Linked DNA regions of Homo sapiens: all the other regions are linked to region 1. Evidence: fine-mapped expression QTL. A gene starts in region 1. Each other region holds a variant in brackets. All regions are shown on one strand. Distances are from middle to middle.

Region 1 (10,924 bases):
TAAGTGGAGGAATGCTTAAGAAGGTTAGGAAGGACAAAAAGGACTTTAACACGGAAAAAATAAAGATATTTGCCAAAGGACTGCACTGAACTAGAGAAGCAGAGAAAAAAGCTCCGGGATGTCACCAGAAAGACATGGCCAGTCTGCCCACGAATGGCCCTCACTCACCACAGGAGCGGGGAAGTCAAGGGGGATTAAAGAGCTCCCCATTTAACCTCCAGGTTCCAAAAACCTCCCCCACTGTCTTCCAAGGGGATCCTTTTCAGCATGTTGTCAGGCAGCTTTTAGAAAGGTCTGTTTCAAGCAGAGGCACTCAACCCCAAATCCTCCTGCATCGGGCTGCTTGTGACCTGCCTGGAGGCCACCCAGCCCAGAACAGGAGCAGCCCGGACCCTGGCCTCTCTAATTTCCTTCCTAGCTACATTTCAACCTGCATTTCAATCTGAACCTACTGGACTTGCCCATCTTAAAACCAAACAGCAGAAGGCCTCCTCCCCTGTCCCACATCCTCTGCCAGTCACTTCTCTCTGCAGCCACACTCTGTGGAGGGCTGTCTACATTGGTTCTCGTACCTTTCCACACCTCATTCATTCCCCAAATGGCTCCCTTGCCGTGGCACCAAATCTGCTCTTGCAAAGGTCAACGGCATCCTGTTTGCTGGCCTCCTCTCCTGTCACTCACCTTCCCTGGGAAAGTGGTCTCTTCCCTTAGCTTCCAGGACATTCCGCATCTCGGGAACTCCTCCTTCCTTGGTCTTGCCTCCTCCTGGCCAGCTTCTCCTGGGCTTCCCTTGCCCCTGACACACCTGTGCTCCTAGGAGGCTGAGGCTCTCTGCCTCCCTCCCATGACTTGAGAGACACTCCTATTCTGCCTCCCACTTGCATTTCACATCAACGGCCTGCTAGGAGTTTGCCTCTTGGGACACTGCACAGACACAAATTCAATGGCCAAAACCTGCTCCCCACGCCCGGCCCTTAGTGAAGGCGCACCGCCACCACACAGCCAGAAATCTGGGCCTCATCCTCAGCTGCTCCTCCTTGTTGCATAGCCCTGCTGCCAGATACCAATCTTCCCAATTCCACCTCTGCTGCCCTCTTGGGGCTCCTCTCCAGGCCTGCCATGAACCTTGTTCAGGTTATCATCCCCTCTCACCTGGATCCCTCACACCGCTGGTCTCCCTGCGCTGGTGTCCACAATTGTTACTGATCTGTAAAAATAACTGATGCTGCTGCTTGATGCTCATGGCCCTGGTGATCAAGTACAAGTTCCTTACACAGCACACAAGCCCCCCCGCCAGGGGACATCCTGCCTCTGCGCTCCTTCCCAACGAACATGAACATTTTTTATTCTTCCCCAAGTGGAATCCCCAACCACCCTGGACCAAGCTCATCCATCGCATCTGAAAGACAAGACCATGGCAGCGAAGATCCTGACACTGGCGGTTTGGAAAATGAAAGACCACTTTCACCAGCCTCATCCTGAGCATCATGACCAACTACAGAAGTTGCCTTTAGTTCTGAACAGGACAACCCTTCCATCTCCGCTGCTCCAAATCTCTGCTTGGTGACTGCTCAACTGTTGAAAGCAGCAGCCAGCTGAAGCCAGACACCAGAGTGAGCTTTTTCTTAAAGAATCTAGAAACGTGAGTGCTTTGAACACCAAAAGGACAGCTACAGTCTTCCACTTTTTCCCTAAAAAAAAGGAAGTCTGGTGACCTGCCTAGAAGAACAGAAATCTGCAATTCCAGATTCACCCCTTGCTCCTGGATTGGCAAACAGCTCACCTACCAGCAGAGCCTGTCCCGGAGTAAGAACCACCTGCTAACGCCAAGCACACAGCATATGCACGCCAGGCACTGGCCAAAGTGCTTGATGAGTCTCCCCCCGCAGGTCTGTTTACCCACTCTTATCACTAACAGCAGAGGACTTTGCACCACAAGAGGCTGAGCAGCCTTCAGGGCCTGGGGGCAGGCAAGGGCAGGATGGAACCTACTCCGCTGATTCCAGGGTTGCAATGTTGGCCACCACACCAGGAGAACCACCCCTGCCTCAGGGGCTGCCTCTGGCAGCCCAGATGGGAGTACTTACCACCGCGAGGCTCTGTCTGGACCCAAACCCAGGCTCCCTCCCCAGGGCAGGGTGGCATGGCCATGTTCTAGGGACACAGCCAGGAGCACCCAAGAGTCTAAAAGAATAGAGCTGCCCACCCAAGCCTCCCACCCATTCCTGAGCTACAGCAGTAACAGTAACTTAGCACCCAGGCCTCCTGCAAGGAATGAGGGACGAGATTACACAGAAAGTGCCCATCAGCTCCTGGCACACGGCAGTGCTCAGTCAGGAGTAGCGGTCATTATCACAAAGCCTGGCTTCCTGCAACGACAGGCCAGGGGCTCTCAACAGACGGTGCCAGAAACATCCTGCCACAAATACCAGGGGGCTTTGCCACTTCTTGGCCTTACAGCTGGCAGCCTTTAGGGTCAAGTCCATCCAACACCCTGGGGTGCTCCCACCCTCACCCTACAGGAGTGCAGGTGTGAGAAGCATGGCTGTTAACCAAGGTCTGAGCACCAAACTCTGGGGAGCACCACTAAGGATGATGTTGGAGAGGACTGCAGAAGAAACCACACCTTCACATCCGGAGGGTACTGGTTTTACCTTCAATCTCCGAACTGCTCAGCTAAAACAGTGAAGGGAGGGATGAAAATGTGGAGTTAAGGGAGAACTTGAGACCTTAGGGTTAGAAAAGAAGAGGTGAGGCTGGGCGCGGTGGCTCACGCCTGTAATCCCAACACTTTGGGAGGCCAAGGTGGGAGGATCACTTGAGGTCAGGAGTTCGAGACCAGGCTGGGCAAAATAGTGAGACCCTGTCTCTACATAAAATTTTAAAAAACAGGAGATTAAAAAGCAAAAAAAAAAAAAAAAGGGCCGGGCACAGTGGCTCACGCCTGCAATCACAGCACTTTGGGAGGGCGAGGCAAGTGGATCACCTGGTCAGGAGTTCAAGACCAGCTTGGTCAACGTGGTGAAACCCCATCTTTACTAAAAATACAAAAATTAGCCCGGAATGGTGGGGTGCATCTGTAGTCCCAGCTACTCGAAGGCTGAGGCAGGAGAACTGCTTGAACCTGGGAGGCGAAAGTTGCAGTGATAAGAGATCGGCCACTGCACTCCAGCCTGCGCGACAGAGCTGGGAGAAAGGGAGACTAAGTCAGCATAAATGGAGTTACTTTTGGTGAAAGCAAAGTGTTAAGTTTCCCTGACTTTACCGCAGATAAGGGATTGACACCTAAATACCCTTATCTGCAGTAACGCCAGGGACCTTAAGAATGCTCTGAAGGAAACATTACAGGTCCAGTCAATTTGATATTACATGTGTGCACACAACAATATCCCAGATACCTGGAGACTACCATCTTTTCTATGTTCTTCTAGTTTCTATCCAAAAATTTGGACCTGCTACAAAGTCAAGCACACAGAAACACTCTGGGAGAGGGAAAGAGCTGGGGGATTAGAGGACAAGCGGACATACCCCTCCCTGCAAATGGGGGGGGGGGGCTATCCTGACGCGGGGGTTAAAGTGTTCGCTGTCTAAAGGATTCCTCCCACTCTGATCGATGGCCTTTAAGTATTTCAAAAGGTCATTCCAAGCTGCAAGGCCAATACCGTCTTGAAAAGGGACCTTAGAGGTCTCACTGCTCTCCACAGGGGTGGGACCCTTTCCAGAAGGCTTCCATAACTCTCCACCCCTTTTCAGGGAGAGGGCACTCGCACGGGCGTCCCCTGCACCATGCCCGGGCCGTTACCTCGCTTGAATTCCTCCAGGACAGCGTCCAGCTTGGTGTCGTTGAAGACGAAGTGGAGCGGATGGTTGTAGAAACGAGTGATGGTGCTGAGCGGCGTGCAGTCTTCGGGATCCACGAAGGCCAAGTCCTTGAGGTAGAGCATGTCCACGATGTTGGAGCGCTCCTCCTCGTACACCGGGATGCGCGTGTGGCCGCTCTGCATGATGCTGGCCAGGACGCCGAAGTCCAGCACGGTGCTGGCGTCCAGCATGAAGCAGTCTTCGAGGGGCGTGAGCACGTCCTCCACGGTCCGGCAGCGCAGCACGCCCTTGCTGAGATCGCTGTAGGGGTCGCCGCCGCCGCGCGCCAGCTCCAGCACCCGCTCCCGCAGCCGCCCGGGCCGCGCCGCCAGCTCCAGCAGCTGCCCCACGGGCAGCGCGACGGGCAGAGTGAGCAGGACGGCCAGGCGGCTGAGGCCGAGCGCTCGCGGCGCCAGCGCCAGCGTCCAGCGCCCGCTCACGGCGGCCGGCACCACCTCTCCCACCAGGAACACGAGCCCCGCGCTGCCCAACACGGCGGGCACCGCACGCTGGCCGGCCGCGCGGTACAGCAGCACCGCCAGCGCCGCCTGCGCCAGGCTGGCCAGCAGCAGCAGCGCGCCCAAGGCGCAGCCGGCCCAGCGCCGCGCGGGCTCCAAACGCCGCGCCGCCGCACGCTCCGCCTCCGAGCCGCTCTCGCGCAGCACCTGCACCTCGGCAGGCGCCAGCGCCAGCGCGCTCAGCTGCAGGCCTCGCGCCAGCGCTGCCAGCGCCAGCAGCCCGGCCGCCCCCAGGCCCAGAGCCCAGGGCGGCGCCGCCTCCTCAGCCGCCCCGCCACCCGGCTCCACGCGCACCGCCAGCAGCGCCGAGTGCGGGCGCACGGCCTCGGCCCGCAGGCGCAAGCGCAGCAGCGCGCGCCACTCGCCCGCGGGGGAGGCCGCCTCCTCCCGGCAGCCCGCCCCCTCCGGGGCCACCCAGGACCAAGAGCTGTTGGCGAAGCCCGGGCCGAAGAGGCGCAGGAGGAAGGTGGCGTCCGGCGTGTCCCGCGCCGCCCCTCCGCGTACCCAACCCGCGCCCGCCGCTCCATCCTCCTCCAGGCAGAAGCCCAGCACTCGCGGGCCCGGCGCGGCCTCCCCCGCGGCGTTGCCCAGGCAGAGCGCGGCGAACAACCAGCCTAACCGACCCGCCGCAGCTACCGCCGCCGCCATCGCCTGCTGCCCCCTCTCGGCCTCTCGCGCAGCCTACCCCGCTCGCCCCGCGCCTCCCCGGGCCAATCGTTACGGCTCTTCGCGCCTCCTCGGCCAATAGGCGGTGGGCGGGGGCGGGCCCCAGGGTCGGACTAGGCTGCGCCGGGGAGTAAACAAGTGGCGGCCAGGGGCGGGCCGGGGGCGTGGGGCTCCGGGCCCCGCCGAGTCTGCTGCGGCTCCGGATGCGCGGGGTGGCAGTGGCCGGGAGGACGCGGGGCGGCGGGCAGGGCCTCCCAAGCCCGGCTGTCCTCGGCCCGTGCGCGGCGCCCGGAGTCCCACTCCTCCCGATGCTGTCCCCCGCGCCCGGAGGCCGAGCCAATTCTCTGGGAAGTTCCCGGCTTGGGAGCGGAGCGGCCGGTCGGAAGAACCTCGGGTGCTGGCGCGCCTGAAGTTGCAGACCAGACTGAAATGTGCGAGACATGTGCCTTTTTCTTAGGAAAGGCCCCAGGTACCAGAAAGGTTTTCAGCGCGCCGACCTACGGGGCTAAGAGGGCTGAAATAAGAACCAGTGACTGAGCGCCGGGAGGTTTAAGGTTTATGGAAGATGTTCATCGCGCCGTACCCTACTAGAGGTTTGGGGACGTGGGACACAGCCCCTGCGTTCCCGCCGCGGACCCCGTGATAAATACACAGACACACAAAATCACTACCGCCTTGAATCTGGACAGCTACCTCAGGTGGTTAATATCTAACAGGAGCAGAGTGGAGCTCAGAAAGACTCAGCGTGGGTGCTGGGTTCCGGCGCGACCAGCCTGATACCTAGGTCAGCATCTCAGCCACACAAGCAGGCGGCAGTTCTGTCAGGAATTACTACATCTGGTGATTCCACTTCTCATAGCTCACCGCTGGGAGAATAATTCCTCAGGATTAACAAGATCTATTCCAGAGGATCCTCACTGCTGAAGCGATTTTAGAAGACAGTGTGGTCTGTTGACAGTATGGAATATTCTTTACCCATCAGATATGATCTGTATGTGATTGGAAGGAAATAAACCAACTGCTAACAACACTTCTCTATAGATGTTCAGATTCAGTAATTTTTGTATTTTTCTCTACACTTTTGTTTTTTCAAATTTCCTAGCACAAGAAGACTTTGACTTACTGCACATGTCATTTTAAATGACCTTTATAAAGACTCTATAGAAACAATTTGCTATGTCATGAAAGTAACAATCAAAAAAAGTATGCACATTGTGGCCACAAAGTAAAACTTGTGTGGAAGGTAATGTGCAAAAAAAAAAAAAAATGAGTAAGCTGGTGGTGAGTGACCAAAGGAAAAGGCTTTGTAAAAAACTTTTTTTTTTTTTTTTGAGACGGAGTCTCGCTCTGTCACCCAGGCTGGAGTGCAGTGACGCAGTCTCGGCTCACTGCAAGCTCCGCCTCCCGGGTTCACGCCATTCTCCTGCCTCAGCCTCTCCGAGTAGCTGGGACTACAGGCGCCCGCCACCACGCCCGGCTAATTTTTTTGTATTTTTAGTAGAGACGGGGTTTCACCGTGGTCTCGATCTCCTGACCTCGTGATCCACCCACCTTGGCCTCCCAAAGTGCTGGGATTACAAGCGTGAGCCACCGCGCCCGGCCTGTAAAAAACTTTTTAAAAGATGGTAATAGCTGGCCGGGCACGGTGGCTCACGCCTGTAATCCCAGCACTTTGGGAGGCGGAGGCGGGCGGATCACGAGGTCAGGAGATCGAGACCATCCGGACTAACATGGTGAAACCCCATCTGTACTAAAAATACAAAAAATTAGCCAGGTGTGGTGGCGTGCACCTGTAGTCCCAGCTACTCGGGAGGCTGAGGCAGGAGAATGGTGTGAACCCGGGAGGCGGAGCTTGCAGTGAGCTGAGACCACGCCACTGCACTCCAGCCTGGGCGACAGAGCAAGACTATGTCTCAAAAAAAAAAAAATGGTAATAGTGGCCCGGCGCGGTGGCTCATGCCTGTAATCCCAGCACTTTGGGAGGCTAAGGCGGGCACATCACGAGGTCAGAAGATGGAGACCATCCTGGCTAACACGGTGAAACCCCGTCTCTACGAAAAATACAAAAAATTAGCCGGGCTTGGTGGCGGGTGCCTGTAGTCCCAACTACTGAGGAGGCTGCGGCAGGAGAATCGCTTGAACCCGGGAGGCAGTCGGAGGTTGCAGTGAGCCAAGATCGCACCACTGCACTCCAGCCTGGGTGACAGAGCGAGACTCCATCTCAAAAAAAAAAAGGTAATAGTGTATTTTTAAAAGATGGTAATAGTGTCTCTTCTGCATTGTAAACTCAGAGCTGTGACTAGGCCAATGGGGCATCTCCGTGTTTTTTATTATTCAGGTGATGTTCTGTGCCCTTTGAGTTTACCTTACTTTTGCAGATTACAGAGTAAGCCGCCAGCAGAAGCAATAAAGACATTACTGGGCCTTTGCACTGCAACATCATGCCTCTGAAGAAAAAAAAAGTGCAAACATTACAATAGATTCAGCTCCTTTAGTTCTCACTTCTGTCTCCACGTCAAGATAAAATACTGACATTGAAATAGAATGGATGACATGCTTGAAATGAGTCATGTGCCTGAAAAGTCATTAACAAACAACAGTTCCAGAGAAAAGCCAGGAAAAACTCCCCATGGATTTAGAGACAGAGCTCTCACCTTCAACAGGTTACTTTTTCCTTGTCTCAGGCTTCCTTGGAAAACAACCTATAACTAACTTTCTGGGAGTAAAGCTTCAGGTGGAAGAACAATTGGATCAAACTTGGAAAACGTAAGTGGTCATTTAAATTGTCAGTACCCAAAGATACAAAAAAATCCAATATGGGGCACGCAAAGCTGCTCCTGGAGTGGTTTCCCTTTTGCAGTAGAGGCCTCAACAGTCCTTGACCAGCTTCTCCTGTGGCTGTGCCATTCTTTACCCCACCCCTGGTTAGCATCAGTGGAGACACAGCCACTTGACCTTCAGACCACTGTTGGCCCTCCCTGGGCCGTTTTCCTTACTGGTCTTTTGGATCAAGACATTTCCATGTTATATCTAAATATTTATTCTTGAGTTTTAAACCCACCGGCTAATTCCTGCTTCTCTCTCAAGCCTTAGCTCATATGCTGCTCCCTCCGAGTGATCTTCCTTGACCCTCGACTAGGTTGGCTCAAGGTTATTGGAGCTATGTGCTCTCCCCATATCATCCAGTACATCCCCTGTTGTAACATGTATTCATTTATTCATTCAACAAGTATTTCCTGCATTGAGTCCCTGCAGTGTAGCAGGTACTGTTCTAGTGTTGGGACTGTAGTGGGAATAAAATTAAGTCCCTACCCTTGTGAGGCTAGATTCTAGCGCAAGGACGATAGAAAATACCCAAGTCTATATTTCAATATTTGGTAGTAAGTGCTATGGAGGGAAAAAGGCAAGATAAAGAGACAGATGCTGGGGTGATGCTGATTGAGATGGGCTAATCGGAAGCCTTCTCAAGGAGATGGCATTTGAACTGAGGCTTAAATGAAATAAGGGGTGAGCCTCGCCAAGACTTAGGAGATGTGTCCCAGGTCAGGGAGACAGCAAATGGAAAAGCTGTGTGTGACTGTCCCCCTTGGGGTGGTGGGAAGGTTCTTCATTAAATTCACAGAGGGGTTGGTAGTACCTGGCGTGCGAAAGGGATTTAAACGTGTGGAACAGATGGATGAAGATAATTTACAAATCTTGCCCCAGACACAGACGTTGGCATGTGTACCTCTTTTATCTGGAATATCCTCTTTTCTTTGTTGCCTACATAGATGCCCCCAGTTTGTCTACTCCATTGAACTTTGCATGCTTGGAGCCCCTGGCCTCAGCACACTCAATCGCACAAGCCAGCCTGCAGCACCTGTACAGCACCATGGGAGTCCCCTGCAGAGCTGCAACTTTGAGAGTGGGTATAGTGACGTAACTCAGGTTCTTCAAGGGATGAACACTCCAACTTTGAAACCACTAGCCTGTAGGTGTGGACGAAAAGGCAGCTGCATGTTATAAAACAATATTACTCATACTTTTGGATCAAGCTTCTTTCAGTCCCATGGGTAGGGAGGAGGGGCAATTTGCTGAAGCCCACTGCCCTTCCAGTACTCACAAGCCAAGGGCCCTATGGGATCTGTTTCACAGGACTCATGCTTATGGCAGCTGAGCACATCTGTCCTGTATGTCTGCCAGCAGCCACGTCCCTCTCACTCCTGTGACGACAGCCTTGACTATATTTAGAAATTCCATTTCTGATTGCATTTCACTGCTGAATGGTCCTAGAATCCTTTATTGCCCTTGTCCCATCACAAGAGACAGCCAGCCACAGCCACTTTTATCTCAACAACATACTGAATACTGACAGAACAAACAGGCAAGTTGTAGATTCACCAGGATTTATACATATTTGATTTTTTATTACCAATCAAAAATAAATTCCATATATCGTTTAGCAAATATCATTGTTTTGTGACAAAAGACACAAGAGTCATAACAACAAAACTCCCCGAGAGTCAAACTCATAACGCCAAAATAAATCACAAAAATATACAAATTAAAATATTATGCAAAATAAATACGGCGGCTGTCACCTGCCTACCCATTTGGATGCCCTTTGCAAAGGTCTCCCTTACGTGGAAGACACAGTGGGTGGGCCAGTTCCAGGGTATGGCTCATCCCAGGAACCAGAGGTTGAAATAGGAAGGGAAAAATTGCACTGGGAAGAGGAAGTCATCAGACAAACAATATTTGGAAATAATGATGACCCTCTGTGAGAAGGGATGATCAATGGGCCAGGGAAGAGGAGGAGGGCCAGCCAGTTGGTGGTAACCGTGTGCACAGAGGTCACTGTGGAGGTGTGTGCACCTGCCCCTTTTGCTTCACATACCCCCACCAATGTCTTTTGCTCTACCTGGCAGTCAGGGCTGTCAGGAATATAGCTCTGCCAGCTTCCAAAAGGACTTGGGAGCAAGCTGCTCCTGTACAAGACTAAGGGCTTTCCCCCACTAGGGAACAAAAGTCTGGTGTCTTTTTTCCTTACAGTTGAGAACCCATGGGTGTCACCACCTTCTCTCCAGGCTTCCAGGAGTCAGTTCTATGGCTAGGAGACCTCAGACTGGCCAGGGGTAGGCATACTTGGTGCAAGACAATCCCTGGTCCTAAGAGTTAGGATACTCTAGGCACCTGGAGAGCAGGGCACTTGGGGTGAGGAAAGGAGTGAATAAATAATAATCAGGCGGAAGGCCTGCAGAGTTTCACCTGCCAGGCTCTCGGGACCCAGCTCCTGCTGCACCCAGTGGAAGGACCAACATGGACCTTGGTCCCACAGCCTCCCCAACCCTGGGAAGCCTGGAGTTTTGCAGCAGGGCCTGATTCAGCCCCAGGGAAGAGGCGCCAGGGCAGGAATTCACATGAGGGCAGAGCTCTTAGTACAGTACTACTAACTTCAGCAAGGGCAGGATGACCTCTCACGCTAGGATCACACGTGTGAGAAAGAGGGGCTGCAAGCTGCATGCCTTTAGGAGGAGCCCTCCTCTCCTGAGGTTCCATAAGTGGGTGGATAAGGCCAGGTGAGCCTTGCCAGCCACAGAGGAGAGGACATAAAGAACCTGCTTCCGTGGCTTCCCACATGTCCTCTTGTCTCCACCCCCAAGAGGGACTGAAGCTTGGGGATTCGAAATAAGGGGTCTGGGAAAAAGGCTTCAGTCAACAAGTCAGCCTTGACTGTCATTGTGGGGCGGGGGTGGTACTGACTGCTAACAACGCAGATGCTGATGACTGACAGTTCCTTCTGGAACCAAAAGGAAGAACCCAGACAAATCACCTCCAACACAGATGCCCTCCCGCCGAGGGAGAACCTTTGGTAAAAGTGAGGGCAGGGCCTGGGGAGC
Region 2 (10,924 bases), 25 kb after region 1:
TGCTCCACCATGCCTGGCTAACTCTTTTATTTTTTGTAGAGATGGATCTCGCTATGTTGCTCAAGCTGGTCTCAAACTCCTGGGCTCAAGCAGTCCTCCCATCTCAGCCTCCCAAAGTGCTGGGAATACAGGAATGAGCCACCACGCCAGGCCAGGACTACTTGTTTAAATCGGATAAAAATGGCAATGCTGGGAGCAATGGCTCACATCTGTAATCCCAGCACCTTGGACGGGCTGAAGCGGGCAGATTGCTTGAGGCCAGGAGTTTGAGACCAGCCTGGCCAACACGGTAAAACCCCATCTCTACTAAAAATACAAAAATCAGCTAGGTGTGGTAGTACACACCTGTAGTCCCAGCTACTCGGAAGGCTGAGGCAGGAGAATTGCTTGAACCCGGGAGGCAGAGGTTGCAGTGAGCCGAGATCACGCCACTGCACTCCAGCCTGGGCAACAGAGCAAGACTCTGTCTCAAAAAAAAAAAAAAAAAAAAAAAAAAAAAAAGACCCTGTCTGGTATCACTTATCAGGGGCTTCTGGAACTCTTGGGGAGGGGAAAGACCCAAACTGACAAGGGCACAGAGAGGCCGAGCACTGTGATTAGGTGGGGCAGAGACTACAATTAGAGAGGGGCCACCCCCTCAACCCAAAGTGAGGGAAGGAGGCTGGCATGGGGCAGGACCCTCCACAGAAACCCTGTGGGGTGGTGGGTCTTCCCAGACCCCTTTTTGAAGGCCACACCCTGTTCTTATGGCCCCAGCCCCATGAGTGGCAAGAGGGTCCAGCCAAGAAGGGCTAGGTCCACAGTCTAGGTGGAATGAGTCCTGTGTGCCATACCCCACTCGCAGGAACACAGGTTTGGAGCAGCCTAGGAAGAAAGGCCCCCGGAAATCTGGGAAGGTCAAGTCAGGGTCTTCTGCATGGCTTCCCCTTCACAATCCAAGGGCCTCGCTCTAGGGACTAAAGAACTCATCCTAAATACCCTCGGTGGAGGATGTTTTCCAGGTCTTTAAGGCCACAGAAAATCCCCCAGCCCAAGATGGGCTGTTAAGAACTTCTAAGGGCCTCTTAGGGAGAGCAGAGAGAATGTGAGGTCTCATGACTAAAGTAAAAATTCTCACAATACACCCCATGTGATGGGGGGGGGGGTACTGCATTGTGAAAGTTTTTCACACACATGCCAGGGGCTATGATATATGTATTTCCCACTACAGGTTCTGGTCAAAAAACATTTAGCGTCTTGCTAGACAAAGCCATGGCTGGACTCGATTGAAAATACCCCAGTATCTTCCTAGAGATGAGCCAACAAGTTCAAGAGATCTGTGAGGCCCTCCAGCAGGGCGGCAGCGGGCCAGGCCGGGACCCTGGGGTCCGCCCCCAGGCCTCTGTGCCTGCTGGAGGCTGTCCATACAGGAGTGCCCTCCAGAAAGACAGTGCCTGGAAGGGCCTGGGCATCTAGCTAAACCATGTCACCACATGGGGATGGGAATTAAAGCAAGGCAGCTTTGACAGGCTGAGTATCCCTTATTCCTCACTGGGGATCAGAAGTGTTTCAGATTTCAGATTTTTTTGGATTTTGGAATATTTGCAGAATACACGCCATTGGGCATCCCAAATCTGAAAATCTGAACTACAAAATGCTCCAATGAGCATTTCTTTTGAGCATCATGTTGGTACTCAAAAAGTTTTGGATTTTGGAGCATTTGGGATTTTGGATTTTTGGATTCGGGATGCCCAACCTGTACCCCCTTCCAGATGGGCACCCTCTAAAAAGCCTGGTAATGCCCAGTTATGGTGGAGGATGGGGAAGACAAACAGGCCCTCACATGTATCTGGTTGGTGGCCAGGTAAAAGGGTACATTTCAGGGGGCCAGTTGGTCAGGATGTCACAAAATCAAGGGTTCCTAACCTTGGACTTAGAAGGTCCACTTCTAGGAACTCACCCTAGGGAGAGGCAACCTTCACAAAAGACACAAGAGAAGGGGGCTCTTGGCAACATTCTTTTTAACAGCCCCAAACCAGAAACAACCTAAAGCAATAGCAATAGGGCACAGGGACTCAAAAGGGGCCACAGCTACTCAAGGGAGAACACGGCAGAGGTGGATGAATAAAGCGCGGAACGAAATCCAAGATACGCTATTAGTGAAAGAGCAAGTCACGGAACAGAATGCATGGAGCCATCTGCCTTCACAGAAACAAAGGCGTGTGTGGGCTTGAACTGCCCTGGAAGCGTCCAGAAGTAGTAAGAGTGGTCACCTTTGGGGGTATTTGGAGTTTGGGGAGGAGGCTATTTTGCCTCTCTATATACCCTTCTATACTGTTATATTTGATGGGCATGTTTTACTTTTATAATTTAAAAACAAAACTGAGACAAAATTAAGGGGGAAAACAAAATTAAGGAGAACAAAGGGAAACTGGTGAGAGTCTCTAGGGTGGACAAGGGCCCTCTGTGCTTTTTACTGCCACAGATCGAGCCCCAGGGAATGGGGGTGTGTTCTTTGACAAGGTTCAGTGAGCAGAACCTTGTTCAGACCCCCAAAGTCAGAAAACAACCTCTCCACTACATTCACATCCCTAATTACTCCACAGGCTCAGACCAAATCCTGACCAACGAAAGGTTCCCTCACAGTGAAAGGCTGCTGGCCTCTCTCTGTTTTTATTTTTTTTGAGACAGACTCTCACTGTGTAGCCTAGGCTGGAGTGGCCCAGGCTGGAGTACAGTGGTACAATCTCAGCTCACTGCAACCTTCACCTCCCAGGTTCAAGCGATTCTCCTGCCTCAGCCTCCTGAGTAGCTGGGTGTGCGCCACCATACCCAGCTAATTTTGCATTTTTAGTAGAGACGGGGTTTCGCCAGGTTGGCCAGGCTGGTCTCGAACTCCTGACCTCAAGTGATCATTCTGCCTTGGCCTCCCAGGGTGCTGGGATTACAGATGTCAGCCACCGCGCCCGGCCTGGCAGCCTCTCTTATAGTGGAAACAGCCCTCCTGCGGATGAAATGAGCTGATTCCCTGAGCAGGGTCTTGATACCATTCTCCGCCCCCCGCCTCCTCTCTGAGACCCCTTGGCGGGATCCACTGCTGTGTGTGTGCACCCTCGGGTGGCAGCCAGCTGCATGACAGGCACCTTGTAGGTGTACAGCCCTGAGCACCATGTACACGTTCACCCCTCCTCTGCAAGCTGAGCTTTGGGCACTGCCTGATGGCTGGCCAACTGGGGTTCCGTACAGAGGTTCCAGCCTAAGGGGCCAGTCAGTCACCCTCTGCAGGGTGAGCTTTGGGCCCCTGGGCTGTTTTTCCTATTTTCTAATTTGTCTGTCCAGAGGGGACATCTTTTTGTCCTGGTAGAATTTTCCCCTCCCCGGGCCAGAGAGCCTCTGGTCAAGGTCACCAATGACCTTTCATGGTGGAGTGTTATTCTCAGATGACCTGCTGACCAACGGTGACTCCCTCCTTTCCCCTGGAAGCCCTTTCTGCCCAGGGCTTCCAGGGCACAGCCCTCCCAGTGCTCCTGACCTCAGGAGTCACTGCTTCTCCCTGACCACTTAAATGCTGGAGAGACTCAGAACTCAGTCTGTACACCTGGTCCCTTGCCTAGCAACTTTAAATACAAGTGTACAAGTGTCCCAAATAAATCTCTGCAGCCCTGTCCTCTCCCGTGCCCTCCAGATTCCTCTATCCAAGTGCTGCCTGACGTCACTAATACCTTGAAATTAACGCAGCCAAAACCCAGCTCATGCCCATCCCCCCAACACTCCTGTCTCCCTTTAGGGCAGCTCTGTCCCAGTTATCAGGCCCATGGGACGGTGAGCCTGACCTCCTCTCTTTTTTTTTTGAGATGTAGTCTTGCTCTGTCGCCAGGCTGGAGTACAGTGGCGCGATCTCAGCTCACTGCAACCTCCACCTAGCAGGTTCAAGGGATTCTCCTGCCTCAGCCTGCCAAGTAGCTGGGATTACAGGCGCCCGCCACCACACCCAGCTAATTTTTTGTATTTTTAGTAGAGATGGGGTTTCACCATGTTGGTCAGGCTGGTCACGAACTCCTGACCTCAGGTGATCCACCCTCCTCGGCCTCCCAGAGTGCTGGGATTACAGGTGTGAGCCACCGTGACCAGTCCCTCCTGTCTTTCTTTGTGCCTCTACATCCATTTAGCAGGAGGAGAAAAGTAACCAGTGAGGGGAAGGGGAGCGGGGAAGGGGAAGGGAGGCCGAAGATGGAAAGAATTATTTTAGATTTTACTAATTTAGAAGTTTCTATACTTCGGAAATTATTGCTAACTGATTTAACATCTAAAATAAGCAGATCAATTTAGGGCTTATATTTAGGATTCTCATTGTATAAATTCTAATAAAATTGTATTTTTGTGTGTGTGTGGTTTTTTTTTTTTTTTTGAGCTGGAGTCTCACTCTGTCACCCAGGCTGGAGTGC[A/C]GTGGCGTGATCTCAGCTCACTGCAATCTCCACCTCACAGGTTCCAGTGATTCTCCCACCTCAGTCTGCCTGATTACAGGCACCTGCCACCACACTCGGCTAATTTTTTGTATTTTTAGTAGAGATGGGGTTTCACCATGTTGGCCAGGCTACTCTCCTGCTCCTGATCTCAAGTGTTCAGCCCACCTCGGCCTCCCAAAGTGCTGAGATTTCAGGCGCAGAATTGCTTGAACCCAGGAGGTGGAGGTTGTAGTGAGGCAAGATCATGCCACTGCACTCCAGCCTGGGCAACAGAGCGAGTGACTCCATCTCAAAGAAAAAAAGAAATTAATACTATTGATTATGAAAAATTTGGAATTTTTTATATAGGAAAATATAAAAAGAAAACAGAAAATAGAAACCATCCTGAATCCCCCATATGTAGATTAAGCCACATGAATTGCTGGTTTTGGTAAAATATAATTGAATATCAGCAATTTTATATGGCTCAAGCAAATACTAACATTTTGCTATATTTCCTCAGTCATTTTTCATTGACTAAGGACTACTTTGAAAAATGTGGATTTTTAGCTGTAGATGTATTGTTTTAATTTCCATGTTTCTTTCTTTTTTTTTTTTTTGAGACGGAGTCTTTCTCTTTTGCCCAGGCTCAAGTGCAGTGGATTCTTCTGCCTCAGCCTCCTGACTAGCTGGGATTACAGGCGCCCGCCACCACACCCAGCTAATTTTTTGTATTTTTAGTAGAGACGGAATTTCACCATGTTGGCCAGGCTGGTCTCGAGCTCCTGACCTCAGGTGATCCACCCACCTCAGCCTCCCTAAGTGCCGGGATTACAGGCATGAGCCACTGTACCCAGCCGATGCCACCCCCAAAATCTAATCAGCCAATTGAATGGACACCAATAATAACATAAGGTAGCTCATTAAAATACAATTTTACGGGCTGGGCGCTGTGGCTTACACCTGAAATCCCAGCACTTTGGGAGGCCATGGCAGGTGGATCACCAGCCTCCTGAGTAGCTGGGACTATAGGCATGCACCACCATGCCTGGCTAATTTTTGTATTTTAATTTTTTTTTTTTTTTTTTTGAGACAGAGTCTCACTCTGTTGTTCAGGCTGGAGTGCAGTGGTGCGATCTCAGCTTACTGCAACCTCCATCTCCCCGGATCAAGCAATTATCCTCTCTCAGCCTCCCGAGTAGCTGGGACTACAGGCACAGGCCACCATGCCCAGCTAATTTTTGTATTTTTAATAGAGACAGGGTTTCACCATACTGGCCAGGCTGGTCTCGAACTTCTGACCTCAGGTGATCCACCCGCCTCAACCTCCCAAAGTGCTGGGATTACAGACATGAGCCACTGTGCCCAGCTGGATTTTTGTATTTTTAGTAGAGATGAGATTTTATCATGTTCCCTAGGCTGGTCTCTAACTCCCAACCTCAAGTGATCCATCCGCCCACCTCGGCCTCCCAAAGTGCTGGGATTACAAGGGTGAGCCACCATGCCCAGCCAATAGTATTAATCTCATAATGAGAAAAAAAAAACACATCCATTAGGCCGGGCGCGGTGGCTCATGCCTGTAATCCCAGCACTTTGGGAGGCCGAGGCAGGCGGATCACCTGAGGTGGGGAGTTTGAGACCAGCCTGACCAACATGGAGAAACTCCATCTCTACTAAAAATACAAAATTAGCCAAGCATGGTGGCACATGCTTGTAATCCCAACTACTCGGGAGGCTGAGGCAGGAGAATCGCTTGAATCTGGGAGGTGGAGGTTGCAGTGCGCCGAGATCGTGCCATTGCACTCCAGCCTGGGCAACAAGAGTTAAACTCTGTCTCAAAAAAACAAATAAATAAACAAACAAAAAAACACATCCATCAAATTAACTTTAAAAAAAAATTCTAGGCCGGGTGCGGTGGCTCACGCCTGTAATCTCAGCACTTTGGGAGACCGAGGCGCGTGGATCACGAGGTCAGGAGATCGAGACCATCCTGGCTAACACGGTGAAACCCCATCTCTACTAAAAATACAAAAAATTAGCCGGGTGAGGTGGTGGACGCCTGTAGTCCCAGCTACTTGGGAGGCTGAGGCAGGAGAATGGCGTGAACCCGGGAGGCGGAGCCTGCAGTGAGCCGAGATCACGCCACTGCACTCCAGCCTGGGCAACAGCAAGACTCCGTCTCAAAAAAAAAAAAAAAAAAAAAAATTCTAGCCCGGGTGTGTTGGCTCACGCCTGTAATCCCAGCATTTTGGAGGGCCGGGGGCGGGGGGTGGGTGGATCACGAGGTCAGGAGTTCAAGACCAGCCTGACCAACATGGTGAAACACCGTCTCTACTAAAAATACAAAAATTAGCCAGGCGTGGTGGCGCGGGCCTGTAATCCCAGCTACTCAGGAGGCTGAGGCAGGAGAATCACTTGAACCTAGGAGGCGGAGGTTGCAGTGAGCCGAGATCGCACCACTGTACTCCAGCCTGGGCGACACAGACTCTGTCTCAAAAAAAAAAAAAATTAACTAATAAAATAAAATAAAATTCTAATACCGCTTCCTCTGGGACTTCAGGGTTCCTGAGCCTCCCCAAGCCCTTTCCAAGCACTGCAAGAAAGGGGGTCCAGAAAGAAGGTTCCTGGCACCCTGGCTGTCCCCACTGTCTTCTCCAGGCTTTGCCTGGCGGCATGCTTGCCCACTCTGCCCTCCAGCGACCTCTGTCCAGCAGCAGCCAGGTGGGACCGTGCCCTCCACAGTCAAAGAACACCATGTGAGGCCTCCAGAAACCCCGGAGGGCTGGGCAGACCACAGGTGCCAGCCTCAGCCTCCCTCACAGCTGGCACAAGGGCAAGGAGGATCCCAGCCCTGCCTGAGTCCCTCACAGCTCCTCCTGCTCCCCAGCCTCCGTGTCACCTCTTTATCCTTCTGCCCTGGGCTCAAACGTTAGCCCTGGGTGTTAGCCATGTTGTCTTTTAGGGCCCTGGATCCCGACCCATTTCTTCCCTTCACAGCTCTGTGCCATCGGCTGACCGGCGTCTATCTCCCACTGACCAGGCTGCAGCCTGGCGAGGCCTGAGTAGTGCCCTCGCTCCTCGCCATGCTACCCCAACCCCTCCCACTATGCCTAGCACAGCAGGTGCTCCACACCCCTGCTGGATACAGAAAGGATGGCCCCACCCTGCACAATGCCCATTTTAGCAAACTGCTGCGTCCTCCTTCCCCGCCCTCCATAAAAAAAGACTTTACAGCCCCTTGAAGTCCTTAAGAAAACCGTATTATAGGTGCTGGGTTACAAAGTCCACAGGGGCCATGAGAGGGCCCTACTCACCAGCTCCAGCTGCTTTTTCTCATGGGGAAAAGCCAGGGGCCCCAGAGCAGACCAGGGACTCCCACCACCCAAGAAGGAGTCCTCTGCATCTTACTCAATGAGTCTCCCAGGAAGGTCCAGCCTCTGAGATCCCAGGGGCCCAGGATGTTCCCGCGCTCTCAGGCCCTCCCATGGGAGAGGTGCGGGCTGGACTGACTGGAAGCCACAGGCTTGGGCCCTGGGTCCACACCTGCAGATAGCTGAGCACCCTGATTTCTTGGCGATTCTCTGCTCTTTCCTCCCTTCACCCAAGCTCCCGCAGGATTAAGCTGGCTATTAATAGTGCTGACCTCAACCACCGGGATGAGTGGCAGCCAGCCCAGCAAGAAGGCAGAGCCAGGGCAGGAGAGGAACCAGCCAGAGTGACAAGCCCCTGCCCTCTAGCCTCGGGGAGGGCAGCTGGGTTCATCCATAATCCTAAACAGGGCTCATCTATGTTGCTCCCTTCCTCCCAGAGACACAGCTGGCAGTCAGGGCAGTCAGTCCAGGCAAAGGCCAGAAGACCAGAAGGCTGCGGTGGCCCAGCAGGCAGGCCATACACTCTATACTCGCTAGACTCTGAGACAGAGTGAGACCCTGTCTCCAGAAAAAAAAAAAAAAAAAGATTACAGCGATTAAAACAGTGTAGTACTGGGCAGGGCACTGTGGCTCATGCCTGTAATCCCAGCACTTTGGGAGGCCAAAATGGGCGGATCACTTGAGGTCAGGAGTTCAAGACCAGCCTGGCCAACATGGTGAAGCCCCATCTCTACTAAAAATACAAAAATCAGTTAGGCATGGTGGCACAGGCCTGTAATCCCAGCTACTCAGCAGGCTGAGGCAGGAGAATCACTTGAACCTGGGAGGCTAAAGTTGTAGTGAGTTGAGATTGCACTACTGCACTCCAGCCTGGGCAACACAGCGAGACTCTGTCTCAAAAACAAGCAAACAAAACAAAAACAGTGCGGTACTGGAGAGAACAATGGACAGAAATATTTATTTTACTTCAATTTTTTTTAGACAGGGTCTCATTCTGTCACCCAGGCTGCAGTACAGTGGCACAATCACAGCTCACTGCAACTTTGACTTCCTGGGCTCAAGTGAACCTCCTACCTCAGCCTCCCAAGTAGCTGGGACTATAGGGCATGCCACTAAGCTCAGCTAATTTTTAAAAAAAATTTTGTAGAGATGAGGTTTCACTATGCTGCCCAGGCTGATCTCGAACTCCTGGGCTCAAGCGATCCTCCCACCATGGCCTCCCCAAATGCTGGGACTGTAGGCGTGAGTCACCATGCCTGGCTTATGGACAGAAATAAACTCCAACAAATTGGGAATACTGTATATAATAAATCTGGTATATTAAATTGCAGGAGAAAAGAGAGATTATTCAATGAAAGTTACTGGGCTAACTGGTCCAAAGTCACTGTTTTATACCAGACTTATAAATCCCTAAGAAAAACCACTAGCTTAATTTTAAATAGAAATACAATAAATACAAACAAAATATAAGGAAATACAAATTTTCAAAATGAACTCATTTTTTACCTATCATATTAGTCAAGATTTCAGAGATTGGTACTCTCAGTGTTGGCAGGAGAACTACCCACCGTTGGAAGTTCAATTTTTACTTCAGAAATTTGGCAGTATGTGCCAAAATGTAAAATATGCAAGACCTTGGACTCTGCCATTTCTCCCAACCCTAGGAAGTGACCTTAATACAAAGGAAACACCCAGGCCAGCATGCAAGGTGTGCCCAGGAGGGCCTGCCAATGTTATTTGTAACAATATTGCAGGGCTCTTAAAAAGGCTGACTCAGACATGAATTTATCTCAAGAGACGGTGATTCACTATTTGTGTAAAGTAAAAAGTTCCAAAACAGTAGAGTAGGAAGGACTGCTGGTTTCCTTCACTTTTGCTTAATGCATTTTATACTTCACATGCTATTTTTTATTTTTACTCTTCTAATTAGACACTATTTTCATATTGGGGGAGAAGCAATATCATTTGTTGCTGACTTGGTAGAAGAAAATACACCAAAATATCCACATTTTGGATGATGGGATAAGAGTGACTTTTTTTTTTTTTTTTTTTTTTTTTTGAGACAGAGTCTTGCTCTGTTACCCAGGATGGAGTGCAGTGGTGCGATCCCAGCTCACTGCAACCTCCGCTTCCCAAGTTCAAGCCATTCTCATGCCTCGGCCTCCCAAATAGCTGGGATTACAGGTGCCTGCCACCACGCTGAGCTAATTTTTTGTATTTTTTAGTAGACGGGGTTTCACCATGTTGGCCAGGTTGGTCTGGAACTCCTGACCTCAAGTGATCTGCCCACCTGGGCCTCCCAAAGTGCTGGGATTACAGGCATGAGCCACCGTACCTGGCCATGTGACTTTCATTTCTTAATCATTTTCCACTTTTCTAAGTTTCTCTAATACACTACTTTTTAAGAACTTTTTTTTTTTTTTTGAGACAGAGTCTTGCTCTGCCACCCAGGCTGGAGTGCAATAGCACGATCTTGGCTCACTGCAGCCTCTGCCTCCCAGGTTCAAGCAATTCTCCTGCCTCATCTCGAGTAGCTGGGATTACAGGAGCATGCCACCATTCCTGGCTAATTTTTGTGTTTTTAGTAGAGACGGGGTTTCGCCATGTTGGCCACGCTGGTTTCAAACTCCCTACCTCAGGTGATCCACCCACCTCAGCTTCCCAAAGTGCTGGGATTACAGACGTGAGCTGCCGCGCCAGGCCTATCTTTACTTTTTAAAAATTATTTTTATCTTTTTTTTTTCTTTATTTGAGACAGAGTCTCACTCTGTTGCCCAGGCTGGAGTGCAGTGGCGTGATCTCAGCTCATTGCAAGCTCCACCTCCTGGGTTCACACCATTCTCCTGCCTCAGCCTCCTGAGTAGCTGAGACTATAGGCGCCCGCCACCATGCCCGGCTAATTTTTTGTATTTTTAGTAGAGATGGGGTTTCACCATGTTAGCTAGGATGGTCTGGATCTCCTGACCTCGTGATCCACCGCTTCAGCCTCCCAAAGTGCGTGAGCCACTGCGCCTGGCATTTTTATCTTTTTTTAGAGACAGGGTCTCTCTCTGTTGCCCAGGCTGGACAACAGTGGTACAATCATAGCTCACTGCAGCCTAGAGTTCCTGGGCTCAAATAATCCTCCCA
Region 3 (5,927 bases), 47 kb before region 1:
CATCTCCTCATCACCTCTCTCTCTGTCCTTAGAACATGCTCACCTTCACTTTGGAGCATGGAGAGTTTGAAGATGGGAAGGGCAAGTGTCCCTATGACCCAGCTAAGGGCCATGCTGGCCTTCTTGTGGGTGAGTGGCTGCCCCCCATGCAGGCTGGGTGAGTCCTTGGGGCTTGGTTCCACTTGGGTCTGTGTTGGCCGGATGTGTCCATACCTCATGTGTGGCCTAGCTGACCTCTGTCTCCCATAGATGGTGAGCTGTACTCGGCCACACTCAACAACTTCCTGGGCACGGAACCCATTATCCTGCGTAACATGGGGCCCCACCACTCCATGAAGACAGAGTACCTGGCCTTTTGGCTCAACGGTGAGCCACCGGGGGGCCTGTGGGAGCCATGGGTGGGAGGTCCCCCGGGGCCCAGCCCCTCCCTGCTGACCTCCTCCCCTTCCCACAGAACCTCACTTTGTAGGCTCTGCCTATGTACCTGAGAGTGTGGGCAGCTTCACGGGGGACGACGACAAGGTCTACTTCTTCTTCAGGGAGCGGGCAGTGGAGTCCGACTGCTATGCCGAGCAGGTGGTGGCTCGTGTGGCCCGTGTCTGCAAGGTACCGAGTCTCACAGCGGTGGGCCCTGGGAGCCCTGCTGGCCCAGCGGGGCTGACCGGCAGTGTCCCCTTGCCGTCTGCCAGGGCGATATGGGGGGCGCACGGACCCTGCAGAGGAAGTGGACCACGTTCCTGAAGGCGCGGCTGGCATGCTCTGCCCCGAACTGGCAGCTCTACTTCAACCAGCTGCAGGCGATGCACACCCTGCAGGACACCTCCTGGCACAACACCACCTTCTTTGGGGTTTTTCAAGCACAGTGGTGAGTTGGCCAGGGCTCCCACAGAGTGGGGAGGAGCTGGGGTTCAGGTCAGGGACGGTGCATGGGTGGGAGCCTGGACCAGGCCTCAGAGGCAGTCCCGGAAGCCAGGTGTCCAGAAGCCAAGGAGAATGCTGGCACCTGCCCCTTTCAGAGCTGCCTGTGAAGGGGCAGGGCCCCATGCCAGGTGGCACTTGAGCTGCCAGGGCATTCTGGTACCCATGGCCAGTTTGTGCCAGGCCCTGCCTTCCTGCTGCTTGCCCTTAGCTGGGGTGGGAAGAGATAAGGTGGGTACCTGACCCTGGGCTCCCTCTCGCTGTGACAGGGGTGACATGTACCTGTCGGCCATCTGTGAGTACCAGTTGGAAGAGATCCAGCGGGTGTTTGAGGGCCCCTATAAGGAGTACCATGAGGAAGCCCAGAAGTGGGACCGCTACACTGACCCTGTACCCAGCCCTCGGCCTGGCTCGGTGAGTGCTAGGGCAGGGATGCATCTCCCCACCCAGCTGCGGTGCCATCCCACCCTGCTGATGGCCTGCCCCCCACACCCTGCCCCCAGTGCATTAACAACTGGCATCGGCGCCACGGCTACACCAGCTCCCTGGAGCTACCCGACAACATCCTCAACTTCGTCAAGAAGCACCCGCTGATGGAGGAGCAGGTGGGGCCTCGGTGGAGCCGCCCCCTGCTCGTGAAGAAGGGCACCAACTTCACCCACCTGGTGGCCGACCGGGTTACAGGACTTGATGGAGCCACCTATACAGTGCTGTTCATTGGCACAGGTGGGTGCATGGGTATGCAGGCATGGCTGCTCAAGGCTGGGCAGAAGCCCGTGTGCCCAGGGCAGGGAGATTTGGAGCTGCCCCACGGCCTTGTGCCCTCTCATTTACACCTTCTCCTCTGCACCCCCCAGGAGACGGCTGGCTGCTCAAGGCTGTGAGCCTGGGGCCCTGGGTTCACCTGATTGAGGAGCTGCAGCTGTTTGACCAGGAGCCCATGAGAAGCCTGGTGCTATCTCAGAGCAAGGTAGTAAGTTGGGCCCTATCTGCCACTGTCCCCAGCACTATCCCATCTCACTCTCTCCATCTGGCTGCTTCTCCCAGTTGGGCCTATGTGCTTGGCCAGTGCAGAGTTAGGAACACACACACATGTGGATGCACACCTTGCCTAACTTGGGGTGGGTTCCTGGAAACGAGAATGAAAACAGAATGGAATCTGCACTGCACAGGGCCATTATATATAGCCAGGTCACGGGGCTGCGCTCCCAGCATCAAGCCTTGGCAACTGCTCCCATGTTTCTTTCAGACCCTCCAAGCTGTGCTGTGGTTCTGGCTCTGGCCTCTTCCCTGACCATGCCCCTGTGACCAGACCTCCCAGGCTGTGAGATGTTTATGATGCCCTCACCATGGTGGTTTTCCTTCCAGCCCCCATTTCCGTGACTGTTTCCCTGAAGTGCTTGCATTATACCCTTGTGCAATACTCTTTTTGGTTTTTTTTTGAGATGGAGTCTCACTCTGTCACCCAGGCTAGAGTGCAGTGACGCGATCTCAGCTCACTGCAACCTCCACCTCCCAGGTTGAAGCTATTCTTATGCCTCAGCCTCCTGAGTAGCTGGGATTACAGGTGCCTGCCACTATGCCCAGCTAAAGGTTTTTTGTTTTTGTTTTTGTTTTCTTTGAGATGGAGTCTCACTCTGTCGCCCAGGCTGGAGTGCGGTGGCATGATCTCTGCTCACTGCAACCTCCACCTCCCGGGTTCAAGCAATTCTGCCTCGGCCTCCCAAGTAACTGGGACTACAGGCACGTGCCACCATGCCCAGCTAATTTTTTTTTTTTTTTTTTTTTTTGAGATGGAGTCTCGCTCTGTCACCCAGGCTGGAGTGCAGTGGCGCAATCTCGGCTCACTGCAAGCTCTGCCTCCCAGGTTCACACCATTCTCCTGCCTCAGCCTTCCATGTAGCTGGGACTACAGGCTCCCATCACCACGCCTGGCTAATTTTTTGTATTTTTAGTAGAGACGGGGTTTCACCGTGTTAGCCAGGATGGTCTCGATCTCCTGACCTTGCGATCCGCCCGACTCAGCCTCCCAAAGTGCTGGGATTACAGGCGTGAGCCACTGCGCCTGGCCAGCCGGCTAATTTTTGTATTTTTAGTAGAGACAAGGTTTTACCATGTTGGCCAGGCTGGTCTTGAACTCCTAACCTCAAGTGATTTGCCCACCTCAGCCTCCCAAAGTGCTGGGATTCCAGGCATGACCTGCTGTTCCTAGTTGCCTTGTGCAATACTCTTGTGGCATGTTTGCTACACCTCCTGAACTTTGATTTGTTTGCCTTTTACCAGCTATTA[T/C]GACTCAAAATTGTCCCCTAGAACATGGAATAATGGCAGAAAGAAAGTGTGTGGTTGAATAAACACACAGATTGGCATCCACCGTTGAAACAGGAAAACATCTTATGTTATGCTGCTGCTGTTGTGAGGGCTGATGGGCCTTGAAATGTATTTCCTGCACTATGTGTGTGTGAGTGTGTGTGATTATACTTTTTGGCCTCACAGCCCCATCATCCCTTTCTAATAACGTCACGTCGATAAGGGGCTTAGGATTGCATCTGGCCTGTGTAAGCCCTCTGAGTTCTGCGGTTCTTAGAGTTCCCTTTTCAGCACTATAGCTCTGCCTTGTTCCCTTGTTCCTCCTTCTGGCGCCCCGTGCTGTGCCCCCTGCAGGAGTCCAAGCTGTCCCCATGCTGCGTTCTGGTCCGGCCGCCCCTCCCGTGGTGTGGCCCTGGCCGACCCCCCTCCTGCGCCCCGCTTTTCTCGCAGAAGCTGCTCTTTGCCGGCTCCCGCTCTCAGCTGGTGCAGCTGCCCGTGGCCGACTGCATGAAGTATCGCTCCTGTGCAGACTGTGTCCTCGCCCGGGACCCCTATTGCGCCTGGAGCGTCAACACCAGCCGCTGTGTGGCCGTGGGTGGCCACTCTGGGTGAGTTGGGCTCTACATAGGCCAGGACCTCCAGGGACTCAGGGTGGTTGGAGCCAGGCTGCTGATGTACCCTACATCCCCTACCAGATCTCTACTGATCCAGCATGTGATGACCTCGGACACTTCAGGCATCTGCAACCTCCGTGGCAGTAAGAAAGGTGAGCTTTTTCATTCCCGTCGCATCGGGCTGAGCCCTGGACCAGAGCTGGAGTTTCTGTTCTCCTCTTCCCCAGCCCTGCTTTCCTGCACTAACATGCACTCTGTTTTCTCTGCCACTACAGTCAGGCCCACTCCCAAAAACATCACGGTGGTGGCGGGCACAGACCTGGTGCTGCCCTGCCACCTCTCCTCCAACTTGGCCCATGCCCGCTGGACCTTTGGGGGCCGGGACCTGCCTGCGGAACAGCCCGGGTCCTTCCTCTACGATGCCCGGCTCCAGGCCCTGGTTGTGATGGCTGCCCAGCCCCGCCATGCCGGGGCCTACCACTGCTTTTCAGAGGAGCAGGGGGCGCGGCTGGCTGCTGAAGGCTACCTTGTGGCTGTCGTGGCAGGCCCGTCGGTGACCTTGGAGGCCCGGGCCCCCCTGGAAAACCTGGGGCTGGTGTGGCTGGCGGTGGTGGCCCTGGGGGCTGTGTGCCTGGTGCTGCTGCTGCTGGTGCTGTCATTGCGCCGGCGGCTGCGGGAAGAGCTGGAGAAAGGGGCCAAGGCTACTGAGAGGACCTTGGTGTACCCCCTGGAGCTGCCCAAGGAGCCCACCAGTCCCCCCTTCCGGCCCTGTCCTGAACCAGATGAGAAACTTTGGGATCCTGTCGGTTACTACTATTCAGATGGCTCCCTTAAGATAGTACCTGGGCATGCCCGGTGCCAGCCCGGTGGGGGGCCCCCTTCGCCACCTCCAGGCATCCCAGGCCAGCCTCTGCCTTCTCCAACTCGGCTTCACCTGGGGGGTGGGCGGAACTCAAATGCCAATGGTTACGTGCGCTTACAACTAGGAGGGGAGGACCGGGGAGGGCTCGGGCACCCCCTGCCTGAGCTCGCGGATGAACTGAGACGCAAACTGCAGCAACGCCAGCCACTGCCCGACTCCAACCCCGAGGAGTCATCAGTATGAGGGGAACCCCCACCGCGTCGGCGGGAAGCGTGGGAGGTGTAGCTCCTACTTTTGCACAGGCACCAGCTACCTCAGGGACATGGCACGGGCACCTGCTCTGTCTGGGACAGATACTGCCCAGCACCCACCCGGCCATGAGGACCTGCTCTGCTCAGCACGGGCACTGCCACTTGGTGTGGCTCACCAGGGCACCAGCCTCGCAGAAGGCATCTTCCTCCTCTCTGTGAATCACAGACACGCGGGACCCCAGCCGCCAAAACTTTTCAAGGCAGAAGTTTCAAGATGTGTGTTTGTCTGTATTTGCACATGTGTTTGTGTGTGTGTGTATGTGTGTGTGCACGCGCGTGCGCGCTTGTGGCATAGCCTTCCTGTTTCTGTCAAGTCTTCCCTTGGCCTGGGTCCTCCTGGTGAGTCATTGGAGCTATGAAGGGGAAGGGGTCGTATCACTTTGTCTCTCCTACCCCCACTGCCCCGAGTGTCGGGCAGCGATGTACATATGGAGGTGGGGTGGACAGGGTGCTGTGCCCCTTCAGAGGGAGTGCAGGGCTTGGGGTGGGCCTAGTCCTGCTCCTAGGGCTGTGAATGTTTTCAGGGTGGGGGGAGGGAGATGGAGCCTCCTGTGTGTTTGGGGGGAAGGGTGGGTGGGGCCTCCCACTTGGCCCCGGGGTTCAGTGGTATTTTATACTTGCCTTCTTCCTGTACAGGGCTGGGAAAGGCTGTGTGAGGGGAGAGAAGGGAGAGGGTGGGCCTGCTGTGGACAATGGCATACTCTCTTCCAGCCCTAGGAGGAGGGCTCCTAACAGTGTAACTTATTGTGTCCCCGCGTATTTATTTGTTGTAAATATTTGAGTATTTTTATATTGACAAATAAAATGGAGAAAATGAAACGATTGCTCTGATGGGGCTAAGATGTTTGGGCTAAAGCCTTTCTGGGTACCAAGAGGGAAGGCTCTCTGGGTGGAGGGAGGCTGGACTGGGCCTCC

Direction of the effects. Positions count from the first base shown, and alleles are read on the strand shown. Sizes are in standard deviations (SD) of each study's normalised expression. Not every link is listed here.
With allele T in place of C in region 3, the expression in sun-exposed skin of the gene that starts at base 5,037 in region 1 is lower (moderate effect, 0.47 SD a copy in GTEx).

Evidence for each region. PIP is the estimated chance that this variant, and not a neighbour inherited with it, causes the effect.
Region 2: its variant is the best candidate, but not a certain one, in a credible set for the expression of CNNM3 in whole blood (TOPMed, PIP 0.60).
Region 3: its variant is the best candidate, but not a certain one, in a credible set for the expression of CNNM3 in sun-exposed skin (GTEx, PIP 0.55).

What each region holds. Positions count from the first base shown.
Region 1 is chr2:96,810,381-96,821,304 of GRCh38, reverse strand. CNNM3 (cyclin and CBS domain divalent metal cation transport mediator 3) reads right to left here and starts at 5,037. Exons shown (of 8, transcript NM_017623.5): 1 at 3,803-5,037. The coding sequence starts at 5,027. CNNM4 (cyclin and CBS domain divalent metal cation transport mediator 4) reads right to left here. Exons shown (of 7, transcript NM_020184.4): 7 at 9,431-10,924. CNNM3-DT (CNNM3 divergent transcript) reads left to right here and starts at 7,648. Exons shown (of 2, transcript NR_149141.1): 1 at 7,648-7,811; 2 at 8,816-9,066. RefSeq lists silencers at 4,181-4,290, 4,301-4,440, 4,451-5,430 and an enhancer at 5,771-5,890.
Region 2 is chr2:96,785,709-96,796,632 of GRCh38, reverse strand. All of the region lies in intron 1 of CNNM4 (cyclin and CBS domain divalent metal cation transport mediator 4), which reads right to left. Among named protein-coding and RNA genes, the nearest start is that of MIR3127, 7.1 kb to the left of the region's middle. The variant A/C (reference allele first, on the strand shown) is at 4,425.
Region 3 is chr2:96,859,643-96,865,569 of GRCh38, reverse strand. SEMA4C (semaphorin 4C) reads left to right here. Exons shown (of 15, transcript NM_017789.5): 6 at 33-129; 7 at 250-366; 8 at 455-606; 9 at 690-865; 10 at 1,188-1,332; 11 at 1,422-1,644; 12 at 1,776-1,888; 13 at 3,676-3,833; 14 at 3,921-3,991; 15 at 4,115-5,852. The coding sequence ends at 4,944. Among named protein-coding and RNA genes, the nearest start is that of ANKRD39, 4.6 kb to the right of the region's middle. The variant T/C (reference allele first, on the strand shown) is at 3,208.